Regions from separate parts of the Homo sapiens genome. Here region 2 is reported to be linked to region 1. Evidence: microRNA targets listed by miRTarBase, many of them from high-throughput screens and not tested one by one. Region 1 holds a microRNA gene; the other region holds the end of a gene's coding sequence.
The links. The annotated mature microRNA hsa-miR-136-3p reads CAUCAUCGUCUCAAAUGAGUCU and lies in region 1 at 3,165-3,186, opposite strand. An mRNA with a match to its seed (bases 2 to 7 or 8) in the 3' UTR can be bound and repressed. Matches are read on the target gene's strand: a 7mer-m8 pairs with bases 2 to 8, a 7mer-A1 pairs with bases 2 to 7 and ends in A, and an 8mer does both.

Region 2: the mRNA of SOX5 is a reported target of hsa-miR-136-3p. Seed matches in the 3' UTR shown: 7mer-A1 at 2,503-2,509.

What each region holds. Positions count from the first base shown.
Region 1 is chr14:100,882,762-100,887,935 of GRCh38, reverse strand. It overlaps MIR136 (microRNA 136), which reads right to left and starts at 3,234; the gene lies at 3,153-3,234. It overlaps RTL1 (retrotransposon Gag like 1), which reads left to right. Exons shown (of 4, transcript NM_001134888.3): 4 at 3,062-5,174. The coding sequence starts at 3,148. It overlaps MIR127 (microRNA 127), which reads right to left and starts at 4,957; the gene lies at 4,861-4,957. MIR432 (microRNA 432) reads right to left here and starts at 3,453; the gene lies at 3,360-3,453. RefSeq lists a silencer at 1,950-2,244.
Region 2 is chr12:23,529,627-23,534,626 of GRCh38, forward strand. It overlaps SOX5 (SRY-box transcription factor 5), which reads right to left. Exons shown (of 15, transcript NM_006940.6): 15 at 1-4,896. The coding sequence ends at 4,593. Among named protein-coding and RNA genes, the nearest start is that of SOX5, 420 kb to the right of the region's middle.

The DNA of each region.
Region 1 (5,174 bases):
TGGGCTCCATGCTGAGGAGACGGGTCATTTATAGACAAAGCATGTTTTTATAAAAAGAAGTTATATGATTAAATTTACATAGCATGCTAAGAAGTTTGGACACTATTTTGAGGGATGACAGAATTACATTTTTATGCCATGCTAAGGAATTTGGACTTCAGCCATTAAGAGTCTTGTTTTTTTTTTGAGAGGGAATCTCCCTCTGTTGCCCAAGCTGGAGTGCAGCGGCGCAATCTCGGCTCACTGCAACCTCCAAGGTTCAAGCGATTCTCCCGCCTCAGCCTAGGAGAAGTAGCTAGGATTACGGGCATGAGCCACTACTCCCGGCTAATTTTTGTATTTTTAGTAGAAACAGGATTTCACCATGTTGGCCAGGCTGACCTAGAACCCTTGACCTCAAGTGTTCCACCTGCCTTGGCCTCCCAAAGTGCTGGGATTACAGCTGTGAGTCACCGTGCCTGGCTCATTAAGAGATTTTTAAGGCAGTAACATGGCAGAAATTTTGTCTTGGGTAGAGTAGTCAGAGAAATTTTATAGTAAAATGTATTGTTCTATGCTAAAAATAATTAGACCTTATCTCATAGGTAATTAAGAGATAGAATAAAGCTTTAAGCAGAAGTTATAAGAGCAAATTCGTGTATCTTGCAAGGGAGAGTGACCTTTTTATTTTGAGGAATGACATGGTCAGAATTTTATATCATGCGAAGAGGTTTGGAATTAAGCCAATAAAGGGTTTTAGGAGTGACCTGATGAGATTTGGGGGTTCGTATTAATCAGTTGGCAAGTAAATTACACGGTGAAAATTTTCATTTTATGCTAAGTGGTTGAAACTTTACAGGCAATAAAAATGAATTTTTATATGTGTTAAATAGAGAAATTATGAGATGACCTTTATTCATCTTGCTAACAGTTTAAACTTTGATGTTAAGAAGTATTAAGATTTTTCTAACATGCCGAGGATATTAGATTTTGAGCTGAAGGCAGGAACATTGAAGGATTTAATCATTCACATGGTCGAATTTGTAAATATGTTAAGCAGTGTAGACTTTATATTAAGAGGGGGCATAATCTAGTTTTTAAATCGTCTTGCTAAGAAATTTAAATTTTCACCAATAAAGAGTTTTAAGTGAGAGACATGCTGAGATTTTTATTCCTGATAGATAAGTCTGCAGATGAATTACTTAGTTTTTGTATTTCAATTAGAATTATTTATTTGTATTTCAATTAGAATTTTATATTAGAGGTTTGGAATTTTACAGTAATAATGCATATCTCAGAGGACTTTTATGGAGAGGAAATGAGTTAATTTCTGCAATGTGCTATGTACATCATGATGATGATGATGATGATTCTTATAATTCCTATACCATGCTGATTTGTATACTGTGCTTTAAAAAAATGTGATCTCTACCTTGAGGAATGACAAAATAAGAATTTTATATTATATTAAGGCCCTTACATTTTAACCAGAGAATAGTTTTGGTGAGTTTACATGTCAGATATGTTTACGCTAGAAGGTTTGGATTTAATATTGCAGACAGTAAATAAACAGTGGAAGGCTTTAATCAGAGAGACTGCATGATCAAATTTAAGTGTCATGCTAACAAGGGTGTACTTAATTTTGAGAAACAGCAGATCTGAATTTTGTATCCTGTTGGAAAGCTTGGATTTTAGCCAATGAGTTTCACGTAAGGGGGAACGCAGTTTTTTTTTTTTTTTTTACGGATGGGTCCAGTGGCTTAGAAGAAAACTCAGAAGTAACAAAAGGTGTTAAATTTATAAAGAGCAGTAGCTTTACAGTTAATCTATCAGATAATCAAAGCTTAATTTGCTCTGCCCCAGCAGAGAAGAAATGTGCAAATAACCCCAACCAAGACATTCCCTTTCAATTCTGTCTCAGCCCACTAAAACCACCCAACACTAGATTTCCAAAAATCCACTCTGGGACCGTCAGATTCCAAAGATGTCACATGTTCCCCCCAACCCCCACACTCAATGTCCCAACTCTGCCAGATACATGTCTGTTGGGAGGGCTCAACCAGCAACAGAGAGAAAAAGATATTTGCTAGAAAGAGGAGACCAGACCCACTGGCGTTAAGAAGGGGACCTGGGAGGATAAGATTGGAGAGGCGTGCAGATATGCTTGCACTGGTGAAATTGAGGCCAGATGTGTGAAGTTCCAGAAGCCTCACAAAGAGGGCAGTCCTGGGAGAGTGGAGATTGTAGGAAGAGAAGGAGATTATTTGAAGATCTCCTCAACAGCTCAGAGGTCGGGAGAACATAGCATTGGAAGGAGACCAAATCGAGAAAGAGAAATTGGCCAAAAGTCTGAGTTAGAATCAAGTAACAAATATGCAGTTATCCAGCACATAGTAGGTATGTTATAAAATTTATGGAAAAAAAAAAAAAAAACCCAGACCTGTACACACCCCCTGAAATTTCTATTTTGAACATGGGGAAGGAAATAAGAACTATTTTGGGCTGCTGACCCAACTGACGGGACAGTGGCCAAGTGCCCATTTTCTCCTCTTCCACTGCACTGGTGAAACAGTAGGCATCTTTGCTAGAGATTCCCGCTCCACAACCAAGGTGGCTGGGCTTGCTCCAGAGCCCTGAGCCTGCCAGGGGTGGCTTTGGATGGTGCTGAGATGTGACCTCTGTGATTCTCAGGTGACCAAAGCAGGAAAAGAGGATTGACCAGGTGCATGTGCCAGGGGGGAATGGAGCAGCCTGTGCACCCTGCCAGGTACCCGCCTGCCACGGTGGCTGCTCCCAGCCACAGAATTTATGGGCTGTGAATTTCTCACATCTATGGAGGAAAAGGACAGGACAGGCAGACTGAATAAGCCTGGGAGGCAGGTCAGGGGTTGACAGATCTTCCCTCCCTGGGGGCACCCCAAGTGACCAGCCAAAGAGGCTGGCTCGATACAAGAAGGCTTTCCCCCATTTCTCTCTGCTCTGATTAGTTGGGCATCTGATTTGTCCTTGAGACCCTGATACTGCCACTTCACAAGATCCTAAACTACTGCCTTTACTCCCCACACTCCCCTTCCACCACCAGGTTCTGATCTCCACGGTCCCAGCTACTGACTGGACGCCATCACAACCTTACCAATCTTCAGAATACACTCCTTTCCATCCGACGAAATGATAGAACCCTCTGAAGACTCATTTGAGACGATGATGGAGCATAAGAATCCATCATCAAAACAAATGGAGTCCTCCGAGGGCTCATCCAACACCACCGAGGCGACGTCGGGCAGTGGAGTGCGGGGAGAGGCAGGGCCAGCCAGCGGCCCAGCCCAGGAAAAGAAGGAGCCCCCCAGTGGCCCACTCCAGGAAATGGAAGAGCTGCCCACTGATCTACTCCAAGACATGGAGGAGCCATCCAGTGGCCCACGTAAGGAAATAGAGGATCCACCCAATGACCTACTCCAAGACCTGGAGGAGTCATGCAACGGTTCACACCAGGCAAGGGGGGATCCACTCAGTGGAGCATCTGATAGGATGAAAGAAGCATCAGTCAACCCATCGGGAGCCCGAGAAGAACAAGAGGCTCACACTGACCTGAAGGAATCGGGAAGGGAGGAGACTCCTCAAGAGCAAAACCAGACCGAGCACTCAACCGCAGAACTTATGGCCATGGTGAGGTCCATCATCTCGCTGTACTTCCGAATGCAAGACCTCAAAGAGCAACAGAGAGTAGCAGAAGAGATCTTGATCAAAGGGATCAATGCAGGCCAACTGCCCGCCCCAAAGCACTTCTCTGGCGATCGCAGAGAATTCCACGAGTTCATCGTACTCTGCCAACTGACCTTACAGAGCTACCCAAGAATGTTCTATAACGACCGTCTGAGAGTTGGCTATGTCATCAATCACCTGTCCGGCTTGGCATTAGAATGGGCCAAAGCTCTACTGCAGGAAAACAGCCCCCTGATCGGAGACTTCCCAGCCTTCCTGGAGGCCATGTCCGAAGTGTTTGAGTACCGCCAGGCACTGCGTGTGGCAGAAGAGGCCATGTTCACCATCAGGCAGGGCGGCCGCTCTGCCACTGAGTACATCGATGAGTTCCAGAGCCTGGTACCCATCTTGGGCTGGCCAGATGAAGTCCTGCAGGCCCACTTGTGCCAGGGGCTCAACGAGGAGATCAGGCACTATCTATTCCGGGTCCCTCAGCCGGATTCCCTAGACAGTCTGATTGTGCTCATCCTGCAAATAGAAGAGAAGCTGGCAGAGAGAAGAGCTATGCTCAGGCTGCCCCCCGAGGCCCGCCCCCGGAACCTGACCTGGATCGACTCACCTGCTCCAGAGAGGTGGATGGTCAGCAGCTGGTTGCCCAGCGAAGTCCATCCGGACATCAATCGCGCCCACCTCTTCCTGCTGCTCATGGTGAGAGTGAACCCCTACCACAGCGTCGCGGTCCAGGCCCTGGTGGATTCGGGAGCTGACGGCAACTTCATGGATGAGAAGTTCGCCCAAGAGCACTACGTCGAGCTCTACGAGAAGCCGTACCCACAGCCGGTCCAATCCGTGGACGGCTCGCTGATTGGCAACGAGCCTGTCTGGCTCTACACGGAGCCCCTGGTGTGTATCCACCAGAACCACCAGGAGTCCATCGAATTTGACATCGTACCTTCACCGAACTTCTCTGTGGTCCTAGGCATCCGCTGGCTCCGAGTCCACGCCCCCGAAGTCGACTGGATCAAAGGCCGCTGCACCTTCCACTCTCCCTACTGCCTGAAGAACTGCTTCCGCCCGCCCCCGCCATGCATTGCCCTAGAGAGGCACGGCATGAGCCTGCTACCCGGACTGCCACACCCATACTCAGACCTGGCCGACGTGTTTAACCCGAAGGAAGCAGATGATGAGACTTCCGACCAGCCAAGCTCAGACGGATCCGATGATCTTTCTGAATCAGAGCCCTCTGAGCTTCAGCAGGCTGGAGACAGTGATCACAGCGAGACCTTTTACGAGTGTCCCTCCACCGCGCCTTGGGAACCTGTGGGTGCCAGGATGCAAGAAAGAGCCAGGCTACAGGAGGAATACTGGGACCTGCAGGACATGCTGACCAACAGACAGGACTACATACAGATGATTCCGGAACTGTTTGACCAGTTACACGGAGCCGAGTGGTTCACAAAACTGGAGCTGCGTGGGACCATTGTGGAGGAAAG
Region 2 (5,000 bases), not on the chromosome of region 1:
ACATCTTTTTTTTAAGAGCACATAAACTCCTGTTTTATTTTTATTGTGGCATGAATGATAACATAAAACCAAAAACATGAAAATATACAACTTATATTACACTATGTGTTATGAACAAAATATAAATCTATAACTCTATGTTATATTTACATAATTACTTATTATTTTATTAAATTTCAAGTGAGATGGTAGGTTGCACATACTTTGTTTTAAGCTCCAGGCATTTGATTGTCTCTTTTCTATTTTTTTTCCATTTTTACTTGTAAAATCCAAAATATTAGAAGGACTAAGAGCTTTAGAGCCAGTGGAGCTATATAAATACTGTTTTAGTGAACCAGTGACGGAAACACTGGGGAGGACAGGAATCAATCAATCAGTAGGAAACTCAACACATCGTCTTCAACCTGGGAAGTTGATAGTTATAGGATACTTTAAAATTAAATACTGTAAAAGCCTGGCTAAACCAACAGCTATGCCCTACAAGACAAAGGGATACCTGAACCACTTTAAGTGGCCTTCATAGTTTTCCTTGCAGACCCCGTAAGTTTTATTTTATTATTAATTTGATAGACAAATACCTTATAAACCTGTTTGTAAATATACAGTTGTTTATTACAATTCAACAATTTACCCATTAGAATGAGTGAAAGTGTAATTATTTTTTATGTTTTAAATGTGATATAAGAGGTTTCTTCTGGGAACAGTCACAGCTTCTGGATTAAGAAAATATCTGAAGTTGGACCAAAAAATGGTTAATTTTCTTTAAGTGAATTAAGGTAAAATTCTACTCCGGAAATCAAATCTATAAAATAGCTTCACCACAGAAAACTTTTTTATATTTGTTCTTTATAAGAGGATTTGGTTCTAACGATGATTATGTTCTTTGGGAGGGATTTTATACATGGTTAACTCTTAACTGCAGATGCCAAATGAACTTCACAAATGGACTTCACTAATTTAGGTATAAATGTGCTGAAGAATAGTTTTATATTTTATCCAATTGTGGTAAGTTAATCACTAACTTATTATTAGTAACTATAAATGAGTAACTTTATTTTCTCCGGTAATGTTCTCTTAGATTCATATGAAAACAGGACTATTTTTAGAGAAACGGACTACAACAACTATAAAAACCAGAATTCTGGCAAGATTATTTCTCAGTGTTGGGGCAAGTGTGTGTGTGTGTGTGTGTGCGCGCGCGCGCGCGCGCATGTGAGAGAGAGAGAGAAAGGGAAAGAGATAAAGTGTGAACAGATAGGTAAGAAAGCAGACAGGAAGGAGACTGTTTATGTTTTAGTTTGATCTTTTGATCTTACTCTCATTTTCTTTATCTTTTTTGGTCATTATGGGGCACAGAAAAAGAATACAGGGTTTTAGGATCCTTTACCAAAATTATAAATCAACCAATGCCAAAAAGGCAATGTAGTAACACAGTAAGTTGCTATTCATAGCACCTTTTATCAAGTGACTTCAAAGCACTTTCAACATTAATATAACTATTTTTGCTTTTGTTTTCTTTTGGGGAAAACTAGGGCAAAGAAAATTTGATGTCCAGTGAATTAACCGTCAGAACAAGAGAACAGAATGCAGCGGTATGAACTTGCTTTTTGTTTCGGTTCATGCACAGTTTAGTCTCGGACATAAACCTAACTAAAATCAAATTTTGAATTTCAGCAGTTAAAAGTCACCATTAACAATTTTGTTTTCCCCTTCAAATAAAACAAAATATAACAAAAAAAAGACCAAACACCAAAGTGTTGTCAATTCATCGGTAAGTGTGTTAGAATTGATTTCAGCCATGAATGCCTTCAATGGCATCTACCTGGAGCTAAAACAAAGTATTCTTGTAGCCCAAACTCATGAAATGAAAACAAAGCATCTTTCATAACATGGTGTAAAGTAAGTATCCAGCAAACGTGAGAGGTGAACCCACATAAATCGGAAGGAATTTGTTAACAAAGACAGAGAACAAATTTTTTAAAAATCTGTTTTCACATTGTACATAAAAATGATATAAAAACAAGTGTCTATTTTTTCCTTATCCAGAGTGCTTAAAAACAAAACAAACAAAAACAAAAAAAAATTGGCTCTAGATGACTGTGGCAATTAAATAACTAAAATGAGTGATGAGAGCATAAGTTAATTAAGATTGAACACGACCCTCCTATTAATTCACTCCTTTGTTTTAAACATCAGAACTGATATTGTTGGGGCCAAAATTCTTAAAAAAGAGAAAACTTACGGAAAGAGAAGTAAAATTGTGGGTAAATGTGTGTGTGTGTGTGTATATGTGTGTATATATATGTATATATATATATACATATACATACATATATGAGTTGGAGATGGAAATTTGTTTTAAATATCTAACAGCTTATTGGCTGCACTTCCAAATCAGAGCAGAATAAAATAGAAAGGGAGAAATAAAATAAATTATACATAACTTACTAATCTGGGAACAGCTGACCATTATTATTATTATTACTATTATTATTATTATTTTATCATCATCATCATTACAACACTAGCAAAAAGAGGCAGTTCAAATGTAAATAAAGTCATCAAAAACAAACAAACAGAAAAACAAACAAAATGAAATCTCTGACATGCAGGATATGATCAGCTCCTCCAAGCAAAACCCCAGAGCAAGTCTTCTGAGAGAGAGAAAAATAAAAGGGATTCTTTTTTTATTTATATGTAAAAATCCAACTTTAGGGTGGTGTTTCGGGGGGTGAGATAGGAAAATGATGACTGGAGTGAAAACTATAGCACATCAAGCTACTAGTTGCAGTATTTACTATCTATCTGATACTTCAATACAAATAATGGCAATTGACTTGAAATGATTTTGCATTTATTTGTACAGGCCCTACAACTGCCTTGGCATTTGGCTGGCAAAATCTACATAAGCAGTCCCATCACATTCAGTTGTTGCTCTTTGCAAATACTCTGCTTGAACCAAAGTTGGACTTCAGTGGATTAATCTGACAGCAAGGGAAGAGCAGTGGCAAGGATCCCTGGGTGCAGCCAGGCTCCATTTTATTGGGCTGCAATGACTTTTAATTAAATCCTACTTTTTATGGCATGAACTACATATGGCCCACACTTCTGAAATGCTAAAGGCCTCCACCTCACTTCATGGAGGGGTGAAAAATACCTTATAAAATCATCAGTTTCATTTCCTGATCGGGAAAGGATGGAATGTTGAAGAAATAAGCTAATTCTATTTGTCTGAAAAAATGGCCAAATATATTCAATGAAAACAATGATTGTTTTGCTCAAAATATCAACAGGAAAAACAAAAATCACTAAGTAGCAAACGTTAATGGAACCAACTGACCAGGGAGAAAGGACATCTGGGAGCAGTTTGCTAGTAGCTTCCATGTTATACATGCACACCTCTATTACACAGGGCCACCTGATCCATCCAATAATAATCAGACATTTAAAAATATAATTTCTGAGCCCTATACTTGGTTAAGTTGTCATTTGAAGTGCAAAGTCAAGGTCAAGATTATTTCTAGACCAGTCACTTGGGAGGATGTGGGATTTCATCCCCAGATGTGGGTTTAACTCACAATGGTCCAACGTTATTCCTATTATTAGTACCATAATCACATACATACATACACACAAAAATCCAAGATCAGAAAATATTTTTCTCTAAATTTCTTATGTCTCTCTCTCTCTCTCTCTTTTCACCTGAGAACAGCACCTACAGTTTCCATTAAAAAAAAAAGTCAAATCTCACCAGCTGCTGGTATTTCAGGTTTTTCAAGGGATTGTCTAAGATTTAACACTGTCCTAACTTAAGAAGGAAAAGGAAAAAGTAAAGAGAAAAAATGAACTTGGTCAACACTTCAGTACAAATTTGGCACTTGCTCAAAGATGTAGTGTGGTGTGCAATAGATAAAGTCCTCTAAAGAAAATAATTGCTTATTTTGTGGTGGATAGCAAGGAAGTTAAAAACAGGCTCTTTTTCCCTCTTTCCCCTCATGCACAGACTTCCATCTTTAAAGTAGAGAGATGGAGAAGGTGGAGAGAAGTAAAGAGAAATTCATTTTTCTTTTTTTTCTGTCAGGTGCATTACAAAGAAAAAAAATGAAAGGAAAGAAAAAGAAAAGGAAAAAACCCAGAAACCCCAAAAAACAAAACAAAACTTTTTTCTTTTTAAAAATTGTAGCACAAAACAACAAAACACATTCACAAGCCACTTGTTGGCACTGTGTACCTGAGTGAGAATTTCTAGAACATTGTAGAACAAACAGCCATAAAGTTTATTTAAAAAAAAAAAAAAGTTGACGGGTAAGACTTCAGTGCTTGGATGTAGCAGCTGAATTACTGGCATTATTTTACCCATAGCTTATTTCAATCTCTTGTTGTTGATATTGTTGTTTGCTTGTTGTATTTGTTTTTTCTTTCCAAGCCTTTTGAGGCTGAGGTCTATTAGTCAGCTGATGTCCCAACTATTTAAGACTAACAGTTAAAGTAACAGTCAGTGTATGAGAAAGTTAATGTGCTTGGCCACTGGTAAGGATGAACCAGTTAGGGCTTCTTTAAGTCCTAAGGTCACAACAATCTTTTGACCCTTATCAGTTGGCTTGTCCTGCAATATGGTTTTCACTGTCACTCCCATAATCTACATCTGGATCATCCTCTTCCTCGTCGTACTCATCATAAATTTCTCCATTGATGTCCTCGGCCTGTATCTCTTCTTTGATATGTGGCTCCTCTCCTTTCACACCGTAAGTGCTCTGGATAACAGGCATCCCAGGCTCTGGGCTGCTAGACACGCTTGAGTGCTCCGAGGGCAGGTGAGGGGAGGGCATCCCAGCCATGGCGATGGCTCCAGGGTACACAACACCAGCAGTGGCAATGGGGATCTGTGCTTGTTGCCTGTCAAGAAAGGAATTTCCAAAAAGACATCGTGGGTAAGTGAATAGTTAGATGTGGACTTTACTACATAATTAATTTGCTCAGCAATGTCCAATTCTAAGGTA